Linked DNA regions of Homo sapiens: all the other regions are reported to be linked to region 2. The links are microRNA targets in miRTarBase. Many come from high-throughput screens and were not tested one by one. Region 2 holds a microRNA gene; each other region holds the end of a gene's coding sequence.

Region 1 (7,841 bases), not on the chromosome of region 2:
ATGCTTAAAATGAAACTATTATTAATTCAGTGTCGCCTTAATTAGCAAAGCCTCCACTTCAGCTAATAACCAGTGGGACTAAGTTCTATCTGCTGAAGTATTTACAAATTCAGAAACAATCCTGAGTAGCTTGAGGATAGCTAAATGTCATCTTTACTTTAAATATTTGGTTCATATGTTGTTTTAATACAGAGAATGCCATGATATTGATATAGATTTATATACATTTTATAGTTTTGTAGAATTTCATTAATTTTAAATCATTTGGAGACATATTTAGAAGTACAGTTTTTTTTTTACTGAATTATTAAGTCTTTTTGGAATTAAAAATACATTAAAGCCTAAGTACATATAGATTATATTATGTCATACATATTTTTTAAGTTCTTGTTTTCCTTTTTACATTTGCAATAAATTAACAATTTTAAACATGGGAAAATCATAGTATATTTGTTGAAACTTTAAATTTTTCAAATATGTGTAGCTTTTCTTTCCTTATTTTTTAAAATTTTTGATAAGATGTCCATTCCATTTTTCTAGAAATGCCCTTAATATTATATGATTGTAACAGTCTTGAAACTATTCATAGCTTGATTTTTGTTTTAGTTTTAAGCTGTGATCATCTTTCCAATAATCTATTATATATAAATAAACTTTTATGCTCAAAAGTGTTCATGACAATACCACAGTATGAGATGGTCAAACTAATTAAGTCAATTATGGTGGACTGCTGTGCAGCATTTAAAACCTTTTCATAGAATTTTTTAAACCCAGAAATATATGTACTAAATAAACAGCATAGAAAACTGTATATGAATGTGTAATATGTATGTATTTTACATATTACACAAAAACCAAAACACATATAGACAAATATTGGAAGGAAATAAGCCATATATTAATGGTTTTTCTCTCCATAAGATAGGATTATGGGTGATTTATTTCTTTAATTATTTTTATGTTTTCTATAATGACTGCATGTTACTCATTATACAAAATTCTAATTTTTTTAGAAAAATTAAGATAAATTATATAAAAAATAAGAGTTCTCAAAAAGTCAAAGGACATGTATATTTCATTTTAAGGGAATAAATATACAGATATTATTGTTTGGCTTTCAGGAAGTATGTGGAAGACTTCTTTGTCATCCAGAACAAAAATCAAATTTTTTCTCTTTTATAGGACTCTGGAAGGAAAAACTATATTTCTTTACATTCAGCCTAAAATTGCATGAGTATGTGTATGATTGTTACAATGTAATTACTCTTATTTTTTTATTCTTAGTTCTGTGTTTGATTCTTTCTCTTCTTTCCCTATGCCATATCCATTTTAGCTACTTATAAGCACTTTTAGGTTTACAATTTTGAAATCTAAACAATGTTTATTCTAAGATTTGATTTTATTTAAATATGAATGATACCTGGACTGATTCCAAGAAATTGTAGTGCTTTTCTCCCTCTTCATTTTTCTTTTCAGTTGGGGTGAAGCAACATCTGATTTGAGATAGTGTATGATAAAATTAAATAAATTTAAATTTAAGTTTGAGTCTTAGCCATAACAGTTAGTAGCCTAGCCCTGAACTGTTGCACACAGTATTTCATTTATCTAAACCATAATATCCTCTTTTATAAAAATAGAATAATAACAGAATTATTATCAGAATCTTATGGAATAATATGTATAAAATACCCATCACAGTACCTTGCATGTAGTAATTATTGATAATTATTATTGTTATACTTTTGTTATCTCTATCCTCTTATTCAAGAACTGCTTTCATTAGATTACTTAAAACTATTGCATGTGTTAATGTTGCCTAAAGTCACAAATACTTTTATTTTTCTTTCTTTTTCCAATAGCTAAAAAAGGAAGTAGAGATGAAAGGTGTGTGGAGCATGCCATCAAAATACTCTGAAGAAGGAGTTTATAACGTTCAGTACAGTTTCATTAAAGAAGCTGAACATCACTGCTTGTTACATAGCCCAATTCCTGTGAACTGCCCCATAAGATTGCTCCATGGCATGAAGGATGACATTGTACCTTGGCATACATCAATGCAGGTTGCCGATCGAGTACTCAGCACAGATGTGGATGTCATCCTCCGAAAACACAGTGATCACCGAATGAGGGAAAAAGCAGACATTCAACTTCTTGTTTACACTATTGATGACTTAATTGATAAGCTCTCAACTATAGTTAACTAGTATCACATGTTTAGTTGGTATGTAAACTAATGTATCCAGAAGATTGGAAGAGGGATAAGAAATGAAAGATCCTGATACTTTAGGTTTTTCCCTTTCCTCTATTTTGTAAATATAAGATGAGTATTATTTAATGATGTATTTGCATAAGTAATGCAAATTGTGAAGAAGGACCAGCTGCTGTTTAGAAAATTTTCTCCTTCCTTCTGTCCTTGATTTTTTTTCATTAAAGTATTTCCTTTTTTTAATTCAAGAAAAGTTTACCTTTCTTATGCTTATGTTAGCTATGCCAGCTCTTAATTGCATCCTTTTCTAATTAGGATTATTAATAAAGCGTGAATATTTTGTTTTTTATTATAGACAGAAATTTGTAACATTACTTCTGATTTGAAAATGCAATTCACAAAATATAGGGAAATTTTTATTGAAGTAAATTTGAAATGATGGAGAAATTTCAGAAGCATAATAAAGTTCACAATAAGGATAATACTTTATATAATGTATAAAGTATATATAATATAATATATATGTTATATAAACTGCACATTATATTCAAACTTAAAATTGAGCTTTTTTTTTAAAGGCCCAAAATTGTACAGTGATACAAGGAGCTATTTCTAAAATTTGGCTTATGTATAATATATTTAAATGGGGAATTTCATCTAAAACAATGATGTAGTATTTTTAATATTCTGATTGGTAAAATTAAAGAGGAAATTAATCTTTATATATTATTTCTTGCAGAAACATTCATTATTTTATTAATATTGCCCTAAGTACAACTAGGCAAGTGATTGCCACCTAAATCAGAAGACGTTCTAAAGTCAGTAAGAAAGTGTGAAATGCTAGTATAAAGGTTATTTTTTTTCTTTCCTAAATAACTAAAGTGAGGTGTAGATTGAGCCTTGATATTATTTAGTTAATGTTTTTTATTAATTAATTTTGGCTGGACTTTATTTAGCTTGATTAGGTTATTATCTGTCAAACCTTTTAAGTTGACAACATGACTCATATATATACATGTGTATAAGATGAGCATGTGTCGAAGACTTATTCGACTCATTAATGAGGAAACCAGCAGATAGTAAACCTGGTTCAAAGTACAATTCAAGAAACTGAGTATTTATGGGCATTGAAGAAAAAATGTTGAGATAAAATTGCTGTGCAGAAAAAAGTGTTAATGAAGCCGACCTGACTACTTAACCTTAGAGACCTGCTTTACAAGGTTGGCCCTTGATTGGCATCTGGGAACTTGGAGTTCAGGGGGCTTCCACCATTCCCAGAACTGATCAAAGTAGCTTACTATATCTAAACTGTAAAACAATATAGTTTCTCCTGAACACCTGCTTTCCTTCTGGGAGTCTGGAATTTTGGTATGTGCCAGGCAGAGACTACCTTTGTGACCAGCTCCCAGTAAAAACCCCAGGCACTCAGTCTCTAACAAGCTTTTCTGGTTGACAGTGTTTCACAAGTGCTGTTACAACTGGTTGCTGGGAGAATTAAGCTCATCCTCTGTGATTCCACTGGCGGAGGATTCTTGGAAGCTTGCACTTAGTTTCCCCTGACTTCACCCCATGTGTCTTTTTTCCTTTGCTGATTTTGTTTTGTATCCTTTCACTGTAATAAATCATGGCCGTGAGCAGAACTGTATGTGGAGTCTTATGAGTCTTCCTAGCAAATCTTCAAATTTGGGGGTGGTGGTGAGGGCCTCTCCACAGATACAAAACTGGTTTATGTCCTACGGGGCAATTAAACTACAATCCATGGGTTATCTTTTATACTGGACAAAAATTACAAACAGCAAAGATAAATCATCTATGAGTGCCACAGTCTCTGGTGCTGGAGTGGGTTGATAGAAGATGGCACTGGCTATTCAAGGACTTACTTTGCCTAGACATTGCTAGGTGTGAGGCTTGTTAGGAACATGAAGGCAAGGGCCCTTGCCAATGATGGTTTTCTGCGCAAAATAATAAATATGATTTGAGATTTATAATACATATGTAGAGACAGTATAGCATAATGGTTAAGGTCAGAGACAAGCTTGGTTTTTAATTTTGGCTCACCATTTACTAGCTCTGTGACTGAGCAGTTAACCTCACTGAGTCTCAGTCTCTTCTGTAAAATAACATAAACCTAGATAATGCGGTGTAAGGTCTAAATAAGCACAATACATTTAGAACAATGACACAGGAGGCAGTATCTTTTTGCTTTTCATTATGTACAGAACACAGTCCCTTCAGAGACTGATGGACACAATCAATGAAGGCATAGGAAGGAAGGTGGAGGCAAGGAAGTGGGTAGGTCTTCTAAAGCTGAACTGAACTGGACTGGATTTGACCTTCCTGACCTCAAGATCCCAAATAGGAATGTTGTATGGTATTCTTTCAAATGCTAATGGTTTAAAACAAAAAAGGAGAAGGAACCTTTATTACCTAAAGTTAGGAAAATCTTTTAAAATTTAATCTAGCTTTGCAGAGGTTAACATCGCAAATTCCAAATGAGTTTGCATCCATGAGATTTAGTGTATTTTAGTGCGCTGTTAATTATTTGTTTTTTCTAGTTTTCCCCAAAGCTCCTTTCTGAAACCGTTCCATCCCATGTATTTAGTGACGTGTAAAATGGAGGAATAACTGGGAGCCCTTCAGTGCCTTAGCCCCTGGAACTTAGTCATTATTTAAAATAAGTGACACGACCCCTCTAAATCTCAGTATGCACAACAGAAAGGGATAAGGCAAATACCATTTGAAAAGAAGGCTAAGTGAAGCCACGTAATCTATTTTGCTTTTGCTACATCTGTTGAGATTAGAGGCATTTCCAGATACAAATCTAAAAAGTACACCATTCTCCAAACAGCCAATATAGAAACGTCTCTGGAGAATGAGAAGAAAAAAGCTCTGGGCAACACTGAGTTTTATAAAATATGGAGATAGAAAGCTGAAAGAATTACTTGCCACATAACTATTCCCAGGATAGTCCCCAAAGCGAATATGTCAAATACTCATTAAATTTGGAACAGTTAAATCTAAAGAATTTTTATATTCTGGGGTTGAGGTGGGTGGAATTTCAATATACCTTTTTAAGATCCTCTAAATATAGATCTCAAGTACTTCTTAGTTTAGAAACAATCGTGGAGATGTGTAATGGTTGGATGAAAAAAATGTGATGCTTTGGTGTATTTAGAGAATATACCTAGAAAATTGCAGGCAATTTTTTTTAACCAAATGTATCTTTTGGGGAAAATATACATTCCCATTTTGTCTTCCCCTTTTCCTAGGCTTTCAGGGTTTTGCAGGTAAACTTCTACTAAAGAAGAAGCTCAAAAGTCAGTCTCTCAGAATCCTTTCCTTACTCATCCCCATCTCTCTTTTTCAGGAAGTTTGTTGCTGGGTCCTCTGGGCTCTCTTGTGAACAGTACTCTATCCATGCCTTTTTGGTACCACTTGCTGCTTTGAAATTCTCAGTTTATATCCTAGCTTCCTTCTCTCAAAGGATGACCAAGGTCAGAAGCTTTATTTTGACATTGTTTGTCCTCAGACACCTCTGACTATGCTATATCAACCCCTTTACTGGCTCCTCCTCCTTGCCCACCTTATAATGTTAATACTCCTTGAGTTCTGGCCTTGGCAGTCTTCTCTTGCTACTTATTCACCTTGAGGAACATCACCCATGTTCATGGTTTAAACTACTACCTGCTTGCAGGTGACTCAACTACATACCTACAATCTAGACTCTTGAGCTCCAGACCCATAAAACCAACTGCCTAATGAACTGGGATGGACCATGGGCTTCCCAAATGCAGTAAATCCAAACCTTATTATCTTTTCTGCTTTATGTCTCTCCCCACCTATGAGTCCTCTTAAAATAAATGGCGCCACCATTGCTTCTGTTATACAAGTCAAACTTGTGAGTCATTCTGTCTCCTTTTCCTTTACCCAAATCAGATTGATGATCCTCTCTCTCTATGAAAAAGCTCAAACTCTTGCATGATATGTGAGTCCATGAAAGGCTGGTTTAACAAACAAAAACCAGTTGCTGAAAGCCAGTTTAACAACTGGCTTTTGGTGGTGGGGTGGAAGCCCTGATTTGTAGCATTTGCTAACATTCACAGCATAAATATTCCTGCCCTGGCTGGTTTTAAACTACATCATGACATCTCTGAATGCAAAGCTGGAAGAAAATACCCAGTAGCACACCATCACATAGTATTTACACCATATAGAGACAATAAACGCAAATATCCTCAACATAGCTAACAGTAAAATGTAGCAAAAAAATCAGGAAGTGCTTCATTTTTAGTAACTTTTCTTTGTAATATAACTTATTTAAGAGTAAGTTAATATAACCTTATTGCTAAGAATGACTGAGTTTAGCATCTGTCTCTTGAAATTCCTGAAAATTTAACCATGGGCACTTGCAAACACACCATTTTATAATCTGGAGCCTGCCTGACATTCCAGCCTCATTTTTCTTTCTATGTTTCTCTTCTCTTTAACCCTATGTTTTATTAATACTGGAAGATTTTCACCTTAAATACACTTCTTTTGACAGCAACATTCCCTACCCCTCTTGCCTCACTCTATCCACCTGGCAAACACCTACTTGTCTTTCAAGACTTAAAATAATCTCATTTATAAATCTGTCCCCTGATTCCTTAACACCCTCCTCCAGGTATTATTGTACCAACCTGAGTTCTTTGTGCATAATTTTAGCATGACATCTGGCATTTATTGTTTACAAGTTTAACTTCGTTACTAAACCAAATTGTCATGTATCATTTATTTTTGTGTCTCAGCTATACACATAGGCCCTTAAAAAGTTGTTGAGGCCAGGCGCGGTGGCTCACGCCTGTAATCCCAGCTCTTTGGGAGGCTGAGGCGGGCGGATCACGAGGTCAGGAGATTGAGACCATCCTGGCTAACATGGTGAAAACCCCGTCTCTACTAAAAATACAAAAATAAGCTAGTTGTGGTGGCTCATGCCTGTAATCCTCGCTACTTAGGAGGCTGAGGCAGGAGAATCACTTGAACTAGGGAGTCAGAGGTTGCAGTGAGCTGAGATCACACCATTGCGCCCCAGCCTGGCCACAGAGTGAGACTCCGAATCAAAAAAAAAGAAAGAAAAAGTTGTTGAAAACATTAACTATAATACTAGTAGGCACTTAGTAAATGTGGCATTGAGCTGATTTCCACTGTCACCCCTGAGGAGATGAAGCATTTTTTCTCTGAAGACTTCCTCTGGATTTCTGGACACTTCCATGCCCTGCTGTGGCCCCTCTCTTTGCCATTGTATCCTCTCTAGAAGCATGGGCCCAGTCATTCACTTAAAGCACACCAGCTACTCTGTTATAATATGAGGGACTCTTTGGGTACAAAAGATTTGCAAAACACAGTGTTTAAAAAAAGTCAAGCAAATGTACATCTTTAGAATTGTTTCAAGCTTTGCATATCAAACCAACAACTTCCTTAGAGCCATTCCAGCCATGGAAAAAATTATGTGGTTTCTGTTTGGGACTCCGTTCCCTTAGTCTAAGGTTGGAACTAGCCTTATGGCTCCTCCCCAAGATACCAATGATGACTTCCATAATTCTTCTGTCAATTTCCCTGCTCTAAGCTCTTCCCCTAAGCTCCAAGTGTCCCAACA
Region 2 (7,841 bases):
AGATTCTGGATCAGGTCTTATAAGACCTTCAAAGAAACACCCAGGACAATGATTGAGCAAATATATATGTATATAATTATTATAGAAGTCTATTTTTAAAATAAATCCCTTAAGATATTTATTATAAGGATACTGCAAGGAATAACCTCAGGCAACTATGGAGGCTGGTGAGTTCCTAGATCTGCAGGGGGATGGGTCAGCAAGCTGGGGACCCAGGAGAACTGATGGTATAGTTGCAGTCCAAGTCCAGAGGCCAAAGAAGCAGTAGAACAAACCATTTTGTAGTTCCAGTCCAAAGGCCAGCAGGTTTGAGACCCAGGAAGAGCTAATGTTTTAATTTGAGTACAATGCCAGAAAAAAATGAGATGCCCCAGTTTGGAGGCAGTCAGGCAGGAGGAATTCTCTCTAACTTAGGGGAGAGTCAGCCTTTTTGTTCCATTTAAACCTTCATCTGATTGGTGCAGGCCCATCCATCCACATTAGGGAGGGTGGTCTGCTTTACTCATTCTACTGATTTAAATGCTAATGTCATCCAAAAAGACCTTCACAGAAACACCCAGAATAATGACTGACCAAATGTCTGGGCACTCCATGACCCAGTCAGGTTGAAATATAGAATTAATCATCACAAGTTCACTCCTTGTCATGTTGTCACTTATACGCATCTCCTTAAATTATATTTAATCATCAAATGAGAAAAATACCAAGGTCATAATTTCATTTAATAAGATACAACTACCATTTATACAACCCAGAATTCATGAACCACTTCACCAGAAGAGGAGATAAAGTCCTGGAGTGTTGTTTGTTTACTCTTCTCCTTGGTGTTCCATAACATCAATACTATGATTATTTAAAGTTAACAACGGTTAATAACTATGATATAATATCAGTACACCTTACGTTACATGATAAGGGGATAAGAGAGACAAGAAAACACAGAAGTATATTAATAAAAATATAAGTAGAAAATACTCATGGGAACTACAATTCTCATTTCTGTAACTGTCATCTGGTGTTAGCTGGTATTTACAACTACTTTTCTTCACTACCCATTTTGTATTCCCTTTGCCTTCAGCAAGCACCTCAGCCATTATATTTTACCTGGTAGAGTGACCCAAACTTTCATTTCTGAAGGGTCTGGGCCATTAGTAGTCCTGCCAGGATTGGGTTGTTGTAGTTTTCTACTGACCTTAATCACAAGGCATAGTAATACTAAGAGACATCTTATGTATTTCAGAAATATTCTTCCTTACCTCCATTGTGGAGTAGTACTCCAATTTTCCCTTGGTAGTCAGAATCACCTGCTCCAGGCCACACAGTAACTCCCTTCTCTGACCTCTTAAAAAATTAGGAAATATTGTATTGACTTTTCTCTTTCCGTGTTTTCAAGATATCTCTTCTTAAACTATGGCTGTTACGAGAGAAAGAGAAAGAGAAAGAGAAAGACAATCAAGCAGAGCCAGACTGAAAGAGACAGACAGACACGACTGGAGCAGTGAGTCTTTTACACTTCTGTGCTGAAAAATGTGAGAGAGCTTGATGCCTCCTTTCAGGTAAACCCTATCAAATTATAGTCAAGTGTTGGCAAATATGGGTTGTGTAATTTGAGTTTGTTTCCCATCTCCAAACAACCACATGCCCCTCCCCAACTCAAGAACTTGATGGGAAATGTAGGTTACAATGAAATAGAAGAAAACTACTCTACTTTCTTTCCTAATAGTATTACCATTCAACTACATGTGGCTACCCTTCATCGTATCTATTTCCATCCTTCTTGCACTCATAGGATTTCCTTGGGCTTTGAGGCTCAGATACCCTGATATATTTGTTGGTGATTGTGAGTTTTTAGCATGTGTTCTAGCACATTTGTTTGTGTTTATATGGTGATGGGGGGAGTAATACATGTATCTGTGTGCACTTTGGTGTATGTGCCCATACATTTGTGTGTGCACGGGGCATGTAGCATGAGGATTTTGTTATGTTGTTTTTGTTTGAGGTTGGATCTCTGTTTTGTTTTTGTTTTGCTTTTGCTATTCTTATCAGTTTATTTCATGTGTATGGTTTTGCTTTGTTTGTTTGACTTTGGCTCCTTTGGGATTATATGTGTTTGTTTGAATTTGTTTTCAGATTTGCCATGCTCTTGGTCATTGGTGTTTTGATTGGTATTTCTTTACGTACATTGCTTGCAATTTTGTATTTTCTTTTTGTTGTTATTTGGATTTCACTGTGTGATTTCGGTTATATTTTAATTTGCATATTAATTTGCACATATGTTGTTGGAACTTTGCATTGTGTATTGCTAGGGTTCTTTCGATGGCTTATCAATTCTGTTTATGGTTAGTTTTTTTGTATTCATATTTTGTTGTATTCTCATTCTTTTTAATATTGTTTACTTGGGCGTATATGTGTCTGTGTATGTGGTTTCATGGAGCAGTGGGTCTTAGAATCTCCTGCTATGATGTGCCAGGTTGCTGGAAAGACTCCTTTGAAGCTACTGAGGGGTGGGTGATGCAGAGGAAGAGAAGTAGTACCTGTACTGGTGTTTGAAGGAGGGAGTATTGTGTCTGTGTATTTTTTTCCCCTTGAGAACTTTTTGGGGAGATAGCTCAAGGGCCCAAATACTTAAGAGAAAAGCTAAATTGATTGATTGATTGATTGATATATATAAATATTTCTGTAGAATCTAACTTTGGTTGCTTTTCATGGAATTCAAAAAATGCAGTAAAATGCTTGAGATATTTAGAATCATTCTGTTCAGTGAACTATGGCTCCTTGACCGTGACTCAGCACTAACACTGAGCTATGTGCTTCTCTGTCTGTCTTTCAGGGGTTATGTTTAGTAGATGAATGAGAATGGTACATAGAAACACTCGGTCTTGACGATCATGTGGTCTGACTTCTACATGCTATCAAGGGCCAGAGCTAGAAGAATCCAGGTCTTTTAATTTGCCTCAGCTCATGATTATTTGTGTACATCACACACACACACACACACACACACACACACACACACACACACACATATATATATATATAGTTTTTTTTTGTTTTTTTTTTTTGAGAAAGAGTCTAACTAACTCTGTTGCCCAGGCTGGGGTGCAGTGGCATGATCTCGGCTCACTGCAACCTCCACCTCCCGGGTTCAAGTGATTCAGTGGCATGATCTCGGCTCACTGCAACCTCCACCTCCCGGGTTCAAGTGATTCTCCTGCCTCAGCAGCTGCGGTTACAGTTGCCCACCACCACACCCGGCTAATTTTTTGTATTTGTAGTAGAGATGGAATTTCACCACGTTGTCCAGGCTGGTCTCAAAATCCTGACCTCTGATGATCCACCAGCCTCAGCCTACCAGAGTGATGAGATTATATGTGTGACCCACTGCACCTGGCCTGATATTGAGGATTTTTAATGAGACAAGCAAATTAACGCGAAAACTAATGGGATAATCCAGACAAGGATTACACATCTCTGGGGAAGAGATGAAGTGAAATGTTATATTCTGGCTAAGCCTAAAATTTGTGTGTTAATTAGCCATTCGCGGTGGTATGTGCCTTTAATCCCAGCTACTTGGGAGGCTGAGGCAGGAGAAGTGCTTAGACACAGAAGGGGGAGGTTGCAGTGAGCCGAGATCACACCAATGCATGCCAGTCTGGGCGACAGAGCCAGACTTCATCTGAAAACAAAAACAAAAACAAAACAAAAATCTGCATGTTAAAATCTCACTTGGGGCAGGATGAAAAGGGGAGCGCCGGGGGCTACAAGTTGCATTGTCCCTTGGCATAAATCTTGGTGGCCATGCCAAGGCATACACCTATAGGGACTTGAAAAAAAACGGCATGAATAGGGAGCATTTGTTCTTGGATGCCACATTCAGCCATTCAGTGTGCAGTGCCTTTCACAGGGAGGTGTCATTTATGTGAACTAAAATATAAATTTCACCTTTCTGAGAAGGGTAATGTACAGCATGCACTGCATATGTGGTGTCCCTGAGGATGGGGGTGTAGCTGCGAGCATGGTGATGCCTGTTTTGCATCCTGTGCACCCACTCTTCAGTGCTGGGCTACTTCAGGGAACTTTTTGTGCCTTCTAAATGACTATACATAGGAACTGTGGACTCCTGAGAAAACGCATGCACTTCGGTTCCTTAAGAATTTATCTATTTTTGCCAAATGAGGCTTGGCTCAAATAAGAAATACATTGGATAGAGGCCACAGCCATTCTTCGTCAGCTGGAAGGCTATATTCCAGATTCCTAAACTTTTCTCACTTATCAAGAAGTCATCATTTGCAAGGATTCTCCTTTAGCGCTCCCAAAAGACTCTCCTGCCTCTCAGGTCCCTTCATTGCTGATCCACAGTGTCCATTTTCTGTCAAAGACTAAAACATTTTCTCATAGACTTTTAAAATACCTTTCAAAGCCTTCAGTCACCAATTTATGGAGGGTTAAGCGTAGTCCACCCAAGAATATTTCACCCTTTTCCATTATCTTTTTTCCCTGTTTTTTATGTTTGAACAATGGAAGCGTATGATAGAGTTGTTACTCAAGAGATATCTCCTAGTCTTCTCTCCCCATTTTCTGTCTTTTTTTTTTTTGAGATGGAGTCTTTCTTACTCTTTCACACAGGCTGGAGTGCAGTGGCGCCATCTCAGCTCACTGCAACCTCTGTCTCCCGGGTTCAAGCGATTCTTCTGCCTCAGCCTCCCAAGTAGCTGGGATTACAGGCGTGCGCCAACACACCTGGCTAATTTTTGTATTTTTAGTAGAGACCAGGTTTCACCACGTTGGTCAGACTGGTGTCGAACTGCTGACCTCGTGATCCACCCACCTCACCCTCCCAAATTGCTGGGATTACAGGCGTGAACCACCATGCCCGGCCCCATTTTCTTGTGTTGACACTTCTTAACTCAACCTAATGGAGAGAGAAAGAGGCAAATACGCACGTGCACAAGAGTAAGACAAGTGCCAGATGGTGTGAGGCCATCTGCAGCATGAAACTAGTATGCATTTTTTAGAAGTAGGTTATATATAAATAAGCTACTTATATTGGGGAAATGTGTTTAAAAATGTTATAAATAGTAAGTGATTGATTAATACAATTTTGATTCCAACGGAAATAGAGGTTACAGCATATACACCGAAAGAGAGAAACTATAAAAAAACAATTACTATATGGTTACAGGCAGGATTTTAGTTTATGTTTGTTTTTTTAGGTTCAGAATGGATGAATATGTATAAGACCATTAATGTCTGGAAGTAAAAAAAATCAGTTGAAGTATCTTTTTCAATATTAAAACAATTGTACTAATAGAATATATAGAACTTTTTTCATTGGAGGCGGGGGGACATTCTGAATAATAAAAAAAAATTCTGTCCGTTGGAAATACTGTATGTGTGTAGAAATTTCCAAAGTGATAACTCTTTTTAGCATATAATTTCTAAAACTGTATTAGAGAGAATTCATGTGTACTTAAATAAGTGATATCGTAAAATGAAACAAAGACAGAGAATTTAGTTATATCTCTTTTAGGATTTCTCAAAAAGAGTACTATCTCTTTTAGGATTTCTCAAAAAGAGTACTATATTCACTGGTATTTATGGTTTTTCTTTCAGTGAAATACTTTTTTGTATAAGAATGCTTGTGATTTTTGTACATTGATTTTGTATCCTGAGACTTTGCCGAAGTTGCTTATCAGCTTAAGGAGATTTTGGGCTGAGACAATGGGGTTTTCTAGATATACAGTCATGTCGTCTGCAAACAGGGACAATTTGACTTCCTCTTTTCCTAATTGAATACCCTTTATTTCCTTCTCCTGCCTGGTTGCCCTGGCCAGAACTTCCAACACTATCTTGAATAGGAGTGGTGAGAGAGGGCATCCCTGTCTTGTGCCAGTTTTCAAAGGGAATGCTTCCACTTTTTGCCCATTCAGTATGATATTGGCTGTGGGTTTGTCATAGATAGCTCTTATTATTTTGAAATACGTCCCATCAATACCTAATTTATTGAGAGTTTTTAGCATGAAGGGTTGTTGAATTTTGTCAAAGGCTTTTTCTGCATCTATTGAGATAATCATGTGGTTTTTGTCTTTGGCTCCGTTTATATGCTGGATTACATTTATTGATTTGCGTATATTGAACCAGCCTTGCATCCCAGGGATGAAGCCCACTCGATCATGGTGGATAAGCTTTTTGATGTTCTGCTGGATTCGTTTTGCCAGTATTTTATTGAGGATTTTTGCATCAATGATCATCAAGGATATTGGTCTAAAATTCTCTTTTTTGGTTGTGTCTCTGCCCGGCTTTGGTATCAGAATGATGCTGGCCTCATACAATGAGTTAGGGAGGATTCCCTCTTTTTCTATTGATTGGAATAGTTTCAGAAGGAATGGTACCAGTTCCTCCTTGTACCTCTGGTAGAATTCGGTTGTGAATCCATCTGGTCCTGGACTCTTTTTGGTTGGTAAACTATTGATTATTGCCACAATTTCAGCTCCTGTTAGTTATTGGTCTATTCAGAGATTCAACTTCTTCCTGGTGGTCTATTCAGAGATTCAACTTCTTCCTGGTTTAGTCTCGGGAGAGTGTATGTGTCGAGGAATGTGTCCATTTCTTCTAGATTTTCTAGTTTAGTTTATTTGCGTAGAGGCGTTTGTAGTGTTCTCTGATGGTAGTTTGTATTTCTGTGGGATGGGTGGTGATATCCCCTTTATCATTTTTTTATTGTGTCTATTTGATTCTTGTCTCTTTTTTTCTTTATTAGTCTTGCTAGTGGTCTATCAATTTTGCTGATCCTTTCAAAAAACCAGCTCCTGGATTCATTGATTTTTTGAAGGGTTTTTTGTGTCTCTATTTCCTTCAGTTCTGCTCTGATTTTAGTTATTTCTTGCCTTCTGCTAGCTTTTGAATGTGTTTGCTCTTGCTTTTCTAGTTCTTTTAATTGTGTTGTTAGGGTGTCAATTTTGGATCTTTCCTGCTTTCTCTTGTGGGCATTTAGTGCTATAAATTTCCCTCTACACACTGCTTTGAATGTGTCCCAGAGATTCTGGTATGTTGTGTCTTTGTTCTCGTTGGTTTCAAAGAACATCTTTATTTCTGCCTTCATTTCGTTATGTACCCAGTAGTCATCCAGGAGCAGGTTGTTCAGTTTCCATGTAGTTGAGCGGCTTTGAGTGAGATTCTTAATCCTGAGTTCTAGTTTGATTGCACTGTGGTCCGAGAGATAGTTTGTCATTCTTATACACCAACAACAGACAAACAGAGAGAGAGCCAAATCATGAGTGAACTCCCATTCACAATTGCTTCAAAGAGAATAAAATACCTAGGAATCCAACTTACAAGGGATGTGAAGGACCTCTTCAAGGAGAACTACAAACCACTGCTCAAGGAAATAAAAGAGGATACAAACAAATGGAAGAACATTCCATGCTCATGGGTAGGAAGAATCAATATCGTGAAAATGGCCATACTGCCCAAGGTAATTTACAGATTCAATGCCATCCCCATAAAGCTACCAATGACTTTCTTCACAGAACTGGAAAAAACTACTTTAAAGTTCATATGGAACCAAAAAAGAGCCCGCATCGCCAAGTCAATCCTAAGCCAAAAGAACAAAGCTGGAGGCTTCACACTACCTGACTTCAAACTATACTACAAGGCTACAGTAACCAAAACAGCATGGTACTGGTACCAAAACAGAGATCTAGATCAATGGAACAGAACAGAGCCCTCAGAAATAATGCCGCATATGCCGCATATCTACAACTATCTGATCTTTGACAAACCTGAGAAAAACAAGCAATGGGGAAAGGATTCCCTGTTTAATAAATGGTGCTGGGAAAACT
Region 3 (7,841 bases), not on the chromosome of region 2:
TCCAGTTTATAGACAAGGATCAGCCATAGAGACCTTAAGTAACTTGCCTGGTTTCTCAGCTTCACACAAAGACAAATACAGTAATGTGGTTTTAATGTTATATTCAGAAACTCACATTTCTTGATGTGTACATTTTTGGCAGCACCTGAGAAATAGGAAAAATTTCTAAGATTACAGAAATACCTAGTTGCAAAAATGACTGAGTTGGCTTTTCCAGAAAGATTCCACAAATACAGGACAAATTTTACATAAAGTTTGTCTTTGTATTTTATTGATATTACTATATTGATAAAGCAATTTAAATGTAAACTTTTGGTAGTGGACATGTTTCTCATTTGCCTTAGTATTTTGCTAGTAATGGGCAGATAGAAAGTAAGAATGAGGATTTCTCCATAGCGTTGCATAAATAGTATTTAAAGCTTTGTAACTATGTAAATAGTAATTTAATTTTTATAATATGCTTATAGTAGATATACTTTTCTTTTAGAAAGTTGTCTTTTTGCCATCTTTCATTCATTAAAATCCACAGATGTTCTTTAATTTATTACAAACTTTGTTTTTCTTACAAGTTTTCAATAAAGCTGTAAGGTGTGTCTTAGGAATTGATCTTAAGTTGATTTGCTTTGCTTTCTAGACTCAGAAGTCCCTAGAGAAAGTTCACATGAAGATTCTCTTCTAGAATGGTTGAACACCTTTCGGCGCACAGGAAATGCAACTCGAAGTGGACAAAATGGGAACCAAACTTGGAGAGCTGTGAGTCGAACAAACCCGAACAATGGAGAGTTTCGGTTTAGTTTGGAAATCCACGTAAATCATGAAAATAGAGGATTTGAAATTCATGGAGAAGATTATACAGACATTCCACTTTCAGATAGTAACAGAGATCATACTGCAAATAGGCAACAAAGGTCAACTAGTCCTGTGGCTAGGCGAACAAGAAGCCAAACCTCAGTGAATTTCAATGGTAGTAGTTCCAACATTCCAAGGACTAGGCTTGCTTCAAGGGGGCAAAATCCAGCTGAAGGATCTTTCTCAACATTGGGAAGGTTAAGAAATGGAATTGGGGGAGCAGCTGGCATTCCTCGAGCTAACGCTTCACGCACTAATTTCAGTAGTCACACAAACCAATCAGGTGGTAGTGAACTCAGGCAAAGGGAGGGGCAACGGTTTGGAGCAGCACATGTTTGGGAAAATGGGGCTAGAAGTAATGTTACAGTGAGGAATACAAACCAAAGATTAGAGCCAATAAGATTACGATCTACTTCCAATAGTCGAAGCCGTTCACCAATTCAGAGACAGAGTGGCACTGTTTATCATAATTCCCAAAGGGAAAGTAGACCAGTACAGCAAACCACTAGAAGATCTGTTAGGAGGAGAGGTAGAACTCGAGTCTTTTTAGAGCAAGATAGAGAACGAGAACGCAGAGGTACTGCATATACCCCATTCTCTAATTCAAGGCTTGTGTCAAGAATAACAGTAGAAGAAGGAGAAGAATCCAGCAGATCCTCAACTGCTGTACGACGACATCCAACAATCACACTGGACCTTCAAGTGAGAAGGATCCGTCCTGGAGAAAATAGAGATCGGGATAGTATTGCAAATAGAACTCGATCCAGAGTAGGGCTAGCAGAAAATACAGTCACTATTGAAAGCAATAGTGGGGGCTTTCGCCGAACCATTTCTCGTTTAGAGCGGTCAGGTATTCGAACCTATGTTAGTACCATAACAGTTCCTCTTCGTAGGATTTCTGAGAATGAGCTTGTTGAGCCATCATCAGTGGCTCTTCGGTCAATTTTAAGGCAGATCATGACTGGGTTTGGAGAACTGAGTTCTCTAATGGAGGCCGATTCTGAGTCAGAACTTCAAAGAAATGGCCAGCATTTACCAGACATGCACTCAGAACTGAGTAACTTAGGTACAGATAACAACAGGAGCCAGCACAGGGAAGGTTCCTCTCAAGACAGGCAGGCCCAAGGAGACAGCACTGAAATGCATGGTGAAAACGAGACCACCCAGCCTCATACTCGAAACAGTGACAGTAGGGGTGGCAGGCAGTTGCGAAATCCAAACAATTTAGTTGAAACTGGAACACTACCCATTCTTCGCCTTGCTCACTTTTTTTTACTAAATGAAAGTGATGATGATGATCGAATACGTGGTTTAACCAAAGAGCAGATTGACAATCTTTCCACCAGGCACTATGAGCATAACAGTATTGATAGTGAACTAGGTAAAATCTGTAGTGTTTGTATTAGTGACTATGTAACTGGAAACAAGCTCAGGCAATTACCTTGCATGCATGAATTTCACATTCATTGTATTGACCGATGGCTCTCAGAGAATTGCACTTGTCCGATCTGTCGGCAGCCTGTTTTAGGGTCTAACATAGCAAACAATGGGTAAGGTGATGGGATCTACTCAAATACTGTTTTTTAGTAGAACTGAATGTTCAAGCATTGTTTTGCTGAGTTATTTGTGATTAGCTAACCAGGATGAAAAATAACAGATTATATATAGTTTGAACTATTTTTCGTGTGCTTTTTTAAACTTGTTAAAAAGAAATTTATATAAAATTTAAAATACAAATGTTAAATTATCCAGAAATACAGAATAGTTAATATTGCTAGAACCAAATAACCTCTAAAATGTTTTTATTTTGGTAATTTTGTCATGCTAAGCACTTTTGTATCTGCACAATTCAGTAGGTTAAGAATCAATCTTCTTTTTCTTAATAGTACAGCAGACTTTAGCTTCAAGTTTCATAGGCTTAGTACTTATATCTAGACATTTGTGTCTAAATAAGCTTTTCATTAACTTTTTATTTTAAGGACAGTATCTTTTCATGAAAGAGTATTTGGCTGAATGTTTGCTATATATATGTTACTTGAAATGTTAAATTTAATATGCAGCATACCATAGGTGTATATATAGGTATATAATTTTAAGGTTAAAATATTCAGTCTACAAGTTTGGTTCTTATTTAAGCTTTTGGGCTAATACTGCATATGGCACAATGTTTAATATTGGCAAGTTCATCTCAGAGAAAGGGGATTCAGATATAATTTTAAAGTAGAGATAATTTACTGAAGCGTCTCTGACAATCTAACTTATTAGACAGCAAGCAATATATAATACTGAAAAAGTATTCAGAAATGGAAAATTTACATCATATAGGTTATTTAACTTGTGTTCAGCCTTTTTGTAACTTTTTTGAAAGTGCAAACAATTCTTTGGATTATTAAATAAGGTATACAGTATGCATGGTTTCTCAAATTTAGTTTTAAAATCTAAAAGTCTATAAAGAATCAGATGCATAGGCAATATGTTAAGTTCACTTGGAGGCTAAAAATCTCCAGTGAAAACAAAACGAAAACCTTTAAGAGAATGTAGAGTTTATATAAACACAAAGTATGCATTGAAGATCTGTTTCTACCAATAAACATTAAAACAAAGACTGTATGTGAACTATGTTTTTCTGTTGTTCCACTGTGGTTTATTCACCCTCCACTAATATTTCATACTAGATGCCAGGCAGTGTTATGGGATAGAGTATTTCCCAGACGACAGACAAAAGTCCCTGGCTTCATGGAAAAGACATATTTGCTCTTAGAAACTGAATATCAATTGATAAAGTGAATTATTATTCTTACTTTCATATTTGCTTATTAATATATGACAGGATTTTCTTGTGGTGATACTGTTTGGGCAAAATCACAAGAACAGTACTTAGGCCAGATTCTGTGAGATTTAGAAATATCTCCACATTTAATTTTCCTTTCTGACTGGTGACTATGTTCAATTCATTAGGTTAGATGCATGCCCAGGAATGTTAAGGAGTGCATTTACATGGAGTAAAAGGTTTTCATAAAAGTTGTGACTTTGTTTGGAGTAAATTATTTATGTAGGTCAGTTTGAGGATCTAAGACTGGGAAGGTTGATTTCAATCAGATTTGAAGGCTTTTCATAGCAAACTAAGGACTTTTTATCTTACCTTATAGAGATGTTAGATGTCTCTTGATTTTAGTGGCATAGGGTAGGATCATTTTTCATGGCCCAGGAGGATGGGTCTACTACAGCATATAGAACACAATGGAATGGAGAGAGATGGGAAGCAAAGAAACCAATAAGAGAACTATTGTGATAAAAGACATCATTATTTTTATTACCAGTTGTCATCACTTATCTACCCTAGAATGGTGGCAATGAAACTGAAAGGAAAGAGAAGGGTGTAAAAATGTTGGTTTTTAAAAAAAGACGTTGTTTGGTCTCTAGTTCAGTATGAAGAGGTGGAAGAGAGAATCACCTAGGTGGAGGAGGGAGAGGTAGCACAAATTAGTTACAAGGTATGCCAATTTAAACATCTTGAACATAGCTTAATTCATACATCTCACTTATTTTAGTGTTAAAATTTGCCCCCAGTATGAGGAGAGACTAAATCCAGCATTTTTATTTTTATTTTTATTTTTATTGAGACAGAGTCTCACTCTGTTGCCCAGGCTTGAGTGCAGTGGCACTATCTCGGCTCGCTGCAACCTCCGCCTCACAGGTTCAAGCAATTCTCCTGCCTCAGCCTCCGGAGTAGCAGGGATTACAGACATGCGCCACCACGCCCGGCGAATTTTCTGTATTTTTAGTAGAGACAGGGTTTCACCATGTTGGCCAGGCTAGTCTGGAACTCCTCACCTCATGATCCGCCCACCTTGGCCTCCCAAAGTGCTGGGATTATAGGCATGAGCCACCATGCCTGGCCCGTTTATTTCTTATATGGGATATTCCTCAGGAAGTTCTACCTCCCTGGGCCTGATGCAATAGGAAAATTAGGAGGACAAAGGAAGAGGGGAATGAAAAAAGTAAGGATACAGAAAAAATAAAGGCATATTGATTCTTTGACTTAGTCCTTTGCAAGACATGATAATGTTACTAGCATGGAAAGAAATCCCATATAGGCATTTGAAACAGAAGTAGATTGTGTTTTGTATGGAAAATTCCCTGAAGGCAGCAGTACAGCTTAATGAATTTCATAAATTGATAACCCAGTTGGGAATAAAAAAGGATATTCTTTAATATTTTCATTCATTTCCCAATAAACAAGGCTGATGACAAATACAAAGGCCCATTAATCTATTTATAGCTTCTATTTAGCAATGATTATACCCTTTGTGGTTCCAATATAGAGAAGAACAAATAGTTAGAAATTCTTCATTTGAATATTATGTTCCATGTCAGGTCCGTAGAGCTTGTTCTTTATAGTGTGGCTGTCTGGCAAACTTCTATTTCTAGATTGCCAGCTTCCAGCTGCCCTCTCACATAGTTACAGCCTTTTACCCTGTTTTCTCTTTTCCTAGATTTTTTTAGTTTCAGCCAGCATTATGACCCTTACTTAATTATCACTCTTACGAGGTTATTTTCCTTTCAATATTTAACATGAATTCATAATTTAAACCTCTGAAGCTCTCCTTGAAGTATTTTTGCTACCTAACTTAGTAATTGGCAGAGTTTAGGGAGTCAATCACGTGGCTATTTGCCTCCAAAGCTCCTGCTTTTCCTGCTATGCTGCATTCTGGAGAAGTGGAAATGCCTTGGGAAGTTTTCAGTCTAATTTAATTCCTCCTAAAGATATTTTTCTAATTTTACAACTTTGTTCTATCATATGTCTGATTACCCTAATTTCCATAGGCAAATACATCCTTCTGTCTCATGAATGGAGGAGAAGAGTTGCCCCTAAAAGATATAACAGAATCTGTATTATAAAGATGAATCCAGGAAAGAGATGAATGAGGCATCTGAAGATGCTGCATTAAGGGCCAGAGTTGACAAGCTCAGTCTGAGGCATTTTCATGTATATTACTCCCAGACAAGAACATCTAATGAACTTTTAATCTTCCTGCATCTCTCCATTGGAATAATCTGTGGCCAGGGGAGGAGAAACTAGAAACAGCACTTTACATGAAAGCCAGGGTGTTAATTCACTTTGCAGTAGTAGGTGGCTCACTTGGGGTCTCTCATTCAGTCCTGTGCAACACTGGAAATCAGAGAGCTGGCGTATCTGTATTAGGAGATGATTTCCCAGGAAGCCAGATTCATCTATCGTTGAGAACATCATCCCACGTTTCAAAAGATGATGATGGCTGTCAGTGGTGATTTTTTCTTTAGTCTCTAGAGACAGATTGCGAGTTATTTTCAGTGAGTATGAGTGTGTTAGTCCCTGAATATATTTGCCCTTTTGATCATTGGAGATCCATCATTTCAGCAAGTTTTGTTTGAGTATTAAATCTCTGAAGACTCTGAGTTGGCCCCTATATATTTTTTATTCCTTTTTAAAAATAACTTCACATTTCTTCTGGAAAATAATGACTTTCAGACATATTTTTCCTCTATTGTGTTAATGTCTCATTTGAAGATGGAGTAACTTCTTGGCTGCCCAGTATATATATATATATCTCACATCTTCTCACACATTTAATTGTAAAAATGCTCCTACTTAATCCTAATCCAGCCACCTTCTGTGCAATTCCAAATGTGCTGTGCAATTCCAAATGTGCTCACCTTCTCCCCAGTGGGTAACAATCCAAAATCACATGCAGCTTCTGTACTGTGAAGTGACACAATTTAGCCCCTCTGAGTTCAGGTTTTCTAGGTAGTGTCAATTCCTCCATTAGCTTGGATCTGATCAGGTTTGTGACTTCTCACCATTCTGCAGATTATGGGATAAATGATAAAAGTAGCTTCTCCTGCCTACCCGATACAGTGAAATGGAATAAAAATCAAACAAAAACAGGGAAAGAAGTGCCATACATTGATTACTGGTACAGATTATATAATAGCATATCTCGCTGAGCAAGCTTAGCAGGATGAATGATAGAAACAATGGGTCTCATGAGCATTCTCTTTGTTGCCTCACTTCTCTGGATGTAGAATAAATTGTTGGAACCACCTTCAGAAAAGGCACCAAGGGAGGATTTCCTACTGGTGCTTGTGGTGGTGATGGCAGGCAGGTGTTTGAGGAGATGCTGGTGAATGGCTTTGATCTTGGCATTTCAATGTTGGGGCTTGGTTCAGGGTCTACCATAATGCCGGACAGTCACAGGTCTCTATACAGCAGGCTAGGGACTTTTTGACAATACACTTTCCTTAAAACTGTAACTAGTTTCTTAACAATTGTATTTAGGATCTTGTATCCAATGCCAGAAATCTTGTCTTGTTCTCAATTTGCTAAAGGAATAGCCATGGTCCTCACAACCTTTAGGTCTTTTGTTGGTTTGTTCTTTTTTAGCATTTTGTCAAGAGGATCTTTCTATGACTCTAACTCTTAGCCACATAGAGTTTGCCTCTGGAATAGTTAGGAGTCTTTCTTTAATCTTCCCTTGAATGTCACCCTTGTCCTTTCATTGCATTTCAGACCAGTGCATTGTACGATAGAAGGCATCTTCATTTTTGTCTGTAGGATCGAGCAGCATGACCTTCTTTACTCCAACCAATTGGGATCAGATTATGTGACCAGTCCATTGCAACCATGTAACTTGGGAGGGGTCCACTTAGGTTTTATTCCCAGCACTGAATGACTAGGTGTTCCTGATAAATCTCTGTGTTGGGGGTCTCCAAGACCACATCCAAATTTAGTGATTCACTAAAAGATCTCATAGGAATCTGCATAGAGTTATGTTCACAGCTAAGATTTATTACAGGGAAAAGATATTAGCACAGTCAGCAGAGGAGAAAGGTGCATGGGACAAAGTCTAGAGAAATCCAGGTAAGCTTCCAAGAGTCCTGTTCCAGCAGTTACACAAGACACACTTAATTCCTCCAGCATCAAACTGTGGCTACATGAGAGAAGTGTTGTC
Region 4 (7,841 bases), not on the chromosome of region 2:
ATACGCTATGAACAGTTGCAATGCAAGCCGCCTACTGGGTGCTATTTTAACTGCTTTACCTGCTGCATCTCACTCTCACAATCAAACTCTGTGGTTGATACTGTTGTTATCCTTGTTTTATAACTGAGATTATTCCCATGTTGATCGTTAATTTACACAGAGGATTCAGCTATTCGGCGGTACAGATTTGAACCTAGGCAGTCAGACTCCACAGATTTTGCTAATAAATAGACATTGTTTTGTGGTGTAAGATGTTTTGGTCAAATAACTTTTTTGGGCTTTAGAAGGCTGGATATTTATGTAAGGAGCATAACAAAGGTAAATCTATTTTGGTCTCTTTAGATTTCTTCGCAAGACTATGGAAAGGAAGTGGACCTCTACGCTTTGGGGCTAATTCTTGCTGAACTTCTTCATGTATGTGACACTGCTTTTGAAACATCAAAGGTAAAATTATCTCAAAGAAAGAATTAAACAAGAAAAATTACTGACTACCACCTTCAGAGTGCTGCTGCAGACAGTTCTTGCCCTCACGTGAGGATGGGCTTGAGCATATTAGTATCTGACTGCAAATGAAATATGAATTTTCTGTCTTTCAAGGTTTGGCAGAGACCAAACACTTTCTTAAAGACCAAAAACTTTGATCTTCCCTGGAAGGTAGTACATCTCATAAGACTTGTAAGACTTGTCAGTCAGTAACATTTTATTGATTGACTGCTTTGTGTAAGACACTGTGCTAAGTGCTGTAAGGGTTGCAAAAATAAACAAGCCTTGGCTGGGCGCGGTGGCTCACCCCTGTAATCCCAGCTTTGAGAGGCCAAGGCAGGCAGATCACTTGAAGTCAGGTGTTCGAGACCAGCCTGGCCAACGTGGTGAAATCTCATCTCTACTAAAAATACAAAAATTAGCTGGGTGTGGTGGTGCACACCTGTAATCCCAACTACTCAGGGGGCTGAGGCAGGAGAATCGCTTGAACCTGGGAGGCGGAGGTTGCAGTGAGCCAAGATCACACCACTGCACTCCAGCCTGGGTGACAGAGTGACATTCCATCTCTAAATAAATAAATGAATAAAGCCTTGTTCTCAAGGAGCTTATTTTCTAAAAGGGAAGATAATATAAGAGAATGCCATAAGCATTTTAGGAGAAGGCATGAAGTCTGTGGAAGCAGCTGGGAGGGAGATCTTTCCAGCTGTAGGGACTTAGGTTTCATGGAGACATCTAAGCTGGGCTCTGAAGGATCTGTTGGCTTCTAATAGTCCAAAACAGAAAAGTTGATTCTAGCATGGAGGCGGGAATGTACAGAGTGTATTTGGGGACAGCAGGCAGTGTAAGTTGTATTGGAGTATATAAGTTACAAGGAAGTAGTGGTTGGTGAGGCTAGAAAGATAGGTTGGGCTAACTTGAGGAAAAAATGTGGACCTTCTTGCTTAGACAGTGGGGAGTCACTAAAGGCAGTAGGCAAGTGGATATCCTACTCTTTTTTTTTTTTTTTTTGAGATAGAGTTTCACTTTTATTGCCCAGGCTGGAGTGCAATGGCGCGATCTTGGCTCACTGTAACTTCTGCCTCCCAGGTTCAAGCAATTCTCCTGCCTCAGCCTCCCAAGTAACTGGGACTACAGGCGTGCACCACCATGCCTGGTTAATTTTTTTGTATTTAGTAGAGATGGGGTTTCACCATGTTGGTCAGGCTGGTCTCGAACTCCTGACCTCTGGCAATCCACCCGCCTCGGCCTCCCAGAGTGTTGGGATTACAGGTGTGAGCCACTGCACCCAGCTGGATATCCTACTCTTAAGCTCAGGAAAGGGAACTTTCCTGGAGTCAATAACCTTATCCTCTGTAAAACAGTTAGAAGTACCTATCACTTAGGGTTCCAAAATGCATGAAGGGAGATTGTAAAGATGATGCACTTAACACTTCATGTCGTAATGCAAGGATGGTTATTAGATTGGGGGTAGTGTAGGAGAGAGGGAATCCTGCTTGCTTCTTGGCTAAAGAGACTTTCCCAAAAAATCTGGAAATATCCTACATTTCAGGTATTCCTCAGCCTTTAGTTCTGTCTTTCCTCCCAAGTAAATAATTTCCTAATATACACCTATCATTTTTTTTTCCAGTTTTTCACAGACCTACGGGATGGCATCATCTCAGATATATTTGATAAAAAAGAAGTAAGCACTTGAAAATCATCAGAATTTTATTTATTTCAATGTTTTATTTCTTACTATTGACTCTCACTGTCATTGCAGAAAACTCTTCTACAGAAATTACTCTCAAAGAAACCTGAGGATCGACCTAACACATCTGAAATACTAAGGACCTTGACTGTGTGGAAGAAAAGCCCAGAGAAAAATGAACGACACACATGTTAGAGCCCTTCTGAAAAAGTATCCTGCTTCTGATATGCAGTTTTCCTTAAATTATCTAAAATCTGCTAGGGAATATCAATAGATATTTACCTTTTATTTTAATGTTTCCTTTAATTTTTTACTATTTTTACTAATCTTTCTGCAGAAACAGAAAGGTTTTCTTCTTTTTGCTTCAAAAACATTCTTACATTTTACTTTTTCCTGGCTCATCTCTTTATTCTTTTTTTTTTTTTAAAGACAGAGTCTCGCTCTGTTGCCCAGGCTGGAGTGCAATGACACAGTCTTGGCTCACTGCAACTTCTGCCTCTTGGGTTCAAGTGATTCTCCTGCCTCAGCCTCCTGAGTAGCTGGATTACAGGCATGTGCCACCCACCCAACTAATTTTTGTGTTTTTAATAAAGACAGGGTTTCACCATGTTGGCCAGGCTGGTCTCAAACTCCTGACCTCAAGTAATCCACCTGCCTCGGCCTCCCAAAGTGCTGGGATTACAGGGATGAGCCACCGCGCCCAGCCTCATCTCTTTGTTCTAAAGATGGAAAAACCACCCCCAAATTTTCTTTTTATACTATTAATGAATCAATCAATTCATATCTATTTATTAAATTTCTACCGCTTTTAGGCCAAAAAAATGTAAGATCGTTCTCTGCCTCACATAGCTTACAAGCCAGCTGGAGAAATATGGTACTCATTAAAAAAAAAAAAAAAAGTGATGTACAACCACTTCGGAAAACAATTTGGCATTATCTAGTAAAGTTGAATCCATGTATACCCACATAGCTATCAATTCTATTCCTACATACGTGCTTACAAGAATGTCCATAAAACCCTGTTTATAATAGCCAAAAGAACAGGGAACAACCATAATGCACATCAAAAGAAGAATGGATTAAAAAAATTATATTCACACACAGGAGTACTATATAGTATTGAAAACAATTGAAGTACAGCTAAATGTAATAACGTAACACAATACAACTCTCAGAAACATAATGTTAAGCGAACAAAGCAGGTTTTCAGAAAATATATGCAGAATAATTCCATTTATATAAAGTTCCAGAGCATGCAAAACTAAATCATTTTGTATAAAAAACCCAACAAATGTGATGAGACAATAATGGGAAGGAAGGGAATGAGAAATATTAAATTCTGGATGGTGGTTATCTTTGAGGGAGGGGAATGATGTGATTGGGGAAATGGACTTTCAAAGGTAATGGTAACTTCCTTAAGCTGGATGGTAGGTCCACTAGTGTTTGCTGCATAGTTATACCTTTTATCTTAAATACATTTTGTATCTATTGTAACAACCACTTTAAAGACAACCGTGCTGTAAGGCAGTAGCTAAAAACAGAAAATAGTCCATCGGGAAGGGTAAGATGGCTTTCTGCTGAGCACAGGGCTAGAAGTGACAGCCCAGTGGGCCTTCCAACTATATGCCAGGGTGTTAGATGAGTAGAGAGGAGACCACCCAGGAAGTCTGGACAAGGGGTCTGGCATGAGCTCTGGAGAAGATATATTTGAGGAACATGGGGTATGCTAGTTTGTTGTCCTGAATTGCTGTAGAGAAGATAATTTAAATTGCATCTTAGAAGACGACCCTGAGGGTGAATTTCAACTTAGGGCAATTGTTTTAGTTTGTTTCTTATTGGTTTAAATGGATACTTGAAGCTGGATAATTTATAAGGAAAAGAGATTTATATGACTTACAGTTCTGCAGGCTGTACAAGAAACATGGCACCAGCATCTGCTTCTTCCCCGGCTGCTTCCACTCATGGTGGAAGGTGAAGGGGAGCCGGATGTGCAGAGATCATATGGCAAGAGAGGAAGCAAGAGAGCGAGGGAGAAGGTGCCAGGCTCTTTTTAAATAACCGGCTCTTGAGGGAACTAATAGATTGAGAACTCCTTGCTTCTCCTCCCCAGCACACCCCACCCCCAGGGACGGCATTAATGTATTCATGAGGGGTCTTCCCCCATGACCCAAACACCTCCCATCAGGCCCCACCTCCAACACTGGGATCAAATTTCAACATGAGATTTTGGGGGACAAACATGCAAACTATAGCAGCAACCAGCTACCATTCTAAAACTGCCATATGATTTTAGGATTTTTAAAAAGGGCCAAATTTAGGTTAAGCAAAAAGTGAAAATACAGTAAGAGAAAATAGTTTTATAAAGGCTTTAAAAAGTGTTCATAAAGAGCAGTTCATAGATTTTTCACGTAACGTTCATCAATAGATGCTAAAACTATTGGATGAAAAGCTATTGTGGAATAGGATCTTCTACAAGGATTTAAATATAATCCTACAGAAGAGGTATCAATTATACAGGGGAAAATGTACCTTTACAATGGTCACCACAATAACCAAGTGATTCAATTTAGCATCACCCAAGGTGGAACACCCTAACATTATGCCCCTCCTGATGTGACTTAAGAATTTTACCTATTTAGTTTTCTTGCACAAAGTGTTAAACTGGAATTTAATCATGAGGAAATTATTAGACAAATCCTGAATGTAGTCATTCTATAAGATGATTGACTTGGGCTTCTCAAAAAGTCAGTGTCATGAAAAAAAAAAAAAGGGGAGAGACTTGTAAGATACAATGACCAAATGCAATGTTTGAATCTTTATTGTATTCTGGATATTTAAAAAGACAAAAGCTGGACGCAGTAGCTAATGCCTGTTATCCCAGCATTTTTGGGAGGTCAAAAGGGGAGGATGGCTTGAGCATAGGATTTTGAGACTAGCCTGGGCAACACAGTGAGTTCTCATCTCTACAAAAAATCAGAAAATTAGCTGGGCATGGTAGTGTGCATCTGTGGTCCCAGCTACTTGGGGGGGTGAGGTGGGAGGATCACTTGAGCCTAGGAGGTCAAGGCCGCAGTGAGCCATGATCATGTTACTGCATTCCAGCCTGGGTGACAGAGTGAGATCATATCTAAATAATAATAATAATAAAAGAAAGCAACAACCCAGCAAACAGCTATAAAGATATCTTCGGGACAATTGAGAACATTTGAATATAGACTGCATATTAGATAACAATGCCAAATAACTGTTTTCTCAGGTGTGATAATAGTATATGTAGAAAATGTCTTTTTGTTTTGTTTTATTTTGTTTTTGTTTGTTTGTTTGTTTTGAGACAGAGTCTCACTGTGTCGCCCAGGCTGGAGTGCAGTGGCACGATCTCGGCTCACTGCAACCTCTGCCTCCCAGGTTCAAGTGATTCTCCTGCCTCTGCTTCCTGAGTAGCTGGGATTACAGGTATCTGCCACCACTCCAGGTTAATTTTTTCTATTTTTAGTAGAGACGGAATTTCACCATGTTGACCCAGCTGGTTTTGAACTCCTGACCTCAGGTGATTCACTTGCCTTGGCCTCCCAAAGTGTTGAGATTACAGGCATGAGTCACTGCACCCAGCCAAAAATGTTTTTTTAGGCAATGCATGCACAAACATTTAGAGGCCAAGTGTGTCATGATGTCTGCAACTTTCAATGTTCAGCAAAAATCAACATGGAGAGAGAAAGAGGGCACACATGTGGCAAAATATTAGCCATTGTACAATTGGTAAATCTAGATGACAGTACACAGGTGTTTGTTGTATTATTCTTTGAACTTTTCTGTAGATTTGGAAATGTTCTGCGTAGAGAGAAATCTTTTTTTAAAAAAACAATATCTGGTTTTGATTAATGAGGCTATATTCAAAAGAAACACTAAATGATGTGGCCAGTTAGTGAGAATGTAGCCTTATCTTTACTGACCTCATTTTAATATTCCTACTCTGGCTGGGCATGGTGGCTCACGCCTATAATCCCAGCACTCTGGGAGGCCGAGACGGGTGGATCACCTGAGGTCAGGGGTTCGAGACCAGCCTGGCCAACATGGTGAAACCCCATCTCTACTAAAAATACAAAAATTAGCTGGGTGTGGTGGTAGGCGCCTGTAATCCCAGCTACTCGGGAGTCCGTGGCAGGAGAATCGCTTGAACCCAGGAGGTGGAGGTTGCAGTGAGCTGAGATCACGCCATTGCACTCCAGCCTGGGTGACAAGAGCAAAACTCAGTCTCAAAAAAAAAAAAGAAAAAAAAAGATATATATATTCCTACTCTTATTAAATGAATATAGCATTTCTTAGCAACTTCTTTTGATTTGTGAGTATATATTTTCTTGGCCTCAAAATTAAAGTAAAAAGTATCCTCTTACTCAGAGGAGGACAGGGGCAAGAGCCTGGGACCTTATTTGCTAATTAAAATGCACACACACACACACACACACAGAAATTTTGAGAGCCATTTTAATATAATTGCCTCCCTAGAAACATACCTTTTAGGGAATTTTTATCACTAAACCACATGTTATTTAAATACGTACATGTTTAACATAAATACATACATAAAATTCACATGCATACTTAACACTTATGTTAAATATATTCAATGTATATACATATGTACACAATATATGCATATATACATGTGGGTATGTGGTATGTGTGCATGTGTGTGTATGGCCAGCTACATAATTTGTGGGACTAAGGGCAAAATGAAACTGTACGGCCCTCGTTCAAAAATTAGGTGTGGGGTGCTTCTAAGCACAGTCTTGTGCAACTGCACAGGTTGCATGTCCATGAAGCCATCCTGTGTGTGTGCACATATGTGTATGAATATGTATTTTATATAATACATATATATGCATGTATGTATCTGAGAAGAAATGTTTAAAAGGCTACATACAAGCTTTTCCAGGTCTCTACTATCTGTTAACTAACTAGAGACATAACTCACAATATGCAGTCCCCACTGAGTGTTCACCATAATTTGAGATTCTTGGCATGTTAACTTTTCATTATGGAATATTGAATAATTTCAATATTATTCATACATTTCTTTATGTTCAAACATACACAAAAATAGAATAATGAAACTCTACCCATCACCCAGCTGCAACAAATATCAATACTTTACCGTTCTTAATACATCTAACCCCTTACTTTTTGTTTGTTTCTTTTGGTGAAGTATTTAATTGTAATTTTTTTTTTAAGAGACAGGATCTCACTCTGTCACCCAGGCCAGAGTACAGTGGTACGATCACAGCTCCTTGTAACCTCGAACTCCTAGGCTCAAGTGATCCTCCTGCCTCAGCCGCTTGAATAGCTGGGACTACATGCATACACCAACACACCCAACTAATTTTTAAATTTTTTGTAGAAATATGGTCTTGCTGTGTTTCCCAGGCTGGTCTCAAACTCCTGGCCTTGAGAGATTCTCCTGCCTTGGTCTTCCAAACTGCTGGGATTACAATATCCGGCCCTACTGGAATATTTTAAAGTAAATCTCAGGTGTTACATCATTGCACTTGTAAGTACTTTAAAATGTATCTCTAGCAGATAAATCTTTTTAACAAAACCACAGCATCATTGTCACACTCAAAAAATTGACAAGATTTCCTTAATTATCATATAATAGTCTGTATTGTTTCTATCT

What was found. Region 2 holds the annotated microRNA hsa-miR-513a-3p (UAAAUUUCACCUUUCUGAGAAGG, at 3,933-3,955, shown strand). A microRNA usually pairs through its seed, bases 2 to 8, with sites in the 3' UTR of a target mRNA and lowers its output. Matches are read on the target gene's strand: a 7mer-m8 pairs with bases 2 to 8, a 7mer-A1 pairs with bases 2 to 7 and ends in A, and an 8mer does both.
Region 1: the mRNA of ABHD10 is a reported target of hsa-miR-513a-3p. Seed matches in the 3' UTR shown: 7mer-m8 at 2,565-2,571, 7mer-m8 at 2,616-2,622 and 7mer-m8 at 2,650-2,656.
Region 3: miRTarBase lists RNF6 as a target of hsa-miR-513a-3p. Seed matches in the 3' UTR shown: 8mer at 2,559-2,566, 7mer-A1 at 2,571-2,577, 7mer-A1 at 2,895-2,901, 7mer-A1 at 3,158-3,164 and 7mer-A1 at 3,271-3,277.
Region 4: miRTarBase lists EIF2AK2 as a target of hsa-miR-513a-3p. Seed matches in the 3' UTR shown: 7mer-A1 at 4,481-4,487 and 7mer-m8 at 6,635-6,641.

What each region holds. Positions count from the first base shown.
Region 1 is chr3:111,989,518-111,997,358 of GRCh38, forward strand. ABHD10 (abhydrolase domain containing 10, depalmitoylase) reads left to right here. Exons shown (of 5, transcript NM_018394.4): 5 at 1,860-3,851. The coding sequence ends at 2,204. Among named protein-coding and RNA genes, the nearest start is that of TAGLN3, 5.5 kb to the right of the region's middle.
Region 2 is chrX:147,221,974-147,229,814 of GRCh38, reverse strand. It overlaps MIR513A2 (microRNA 513a-2), which reads left to right and starts at 3,863; the gene lies at 3,863-3,989. All of the region lies in intron 2 of LOC105373347 (periphilin-1), which reads right to left.
Region 3 is chr13:26,208,386-26,216,226 of GRCh38, reverse strand. RNF6 (ring finger protein 6) reads left to right here. Exons shown (of 5, transcript NM_005977.4): 5 at 635-3,452. The coding sequence ends at 2,403. Among named protein-coding and RNA genes, the nearest start is that of RNF6, 10 kb to the left of the region's middle.
Region 4 is chr2:37,101,797-37,109,637 of GRCh38, reverse strand. It overlaps EIF2AK2 (eukaryotic translation initiation factor 2 alpha kinase 2), which reads left to right. Exons shown (of 17, transcript NM_001135651.3): 15 at 343-444; 16 at 2,111-2,164; 17 at 2,243-7,841. The coding sequence ends at 2,365. Among named protein-coding and RNA genes, the nearest start is that of GPATCH11, 21 kb to the right of the region's middle.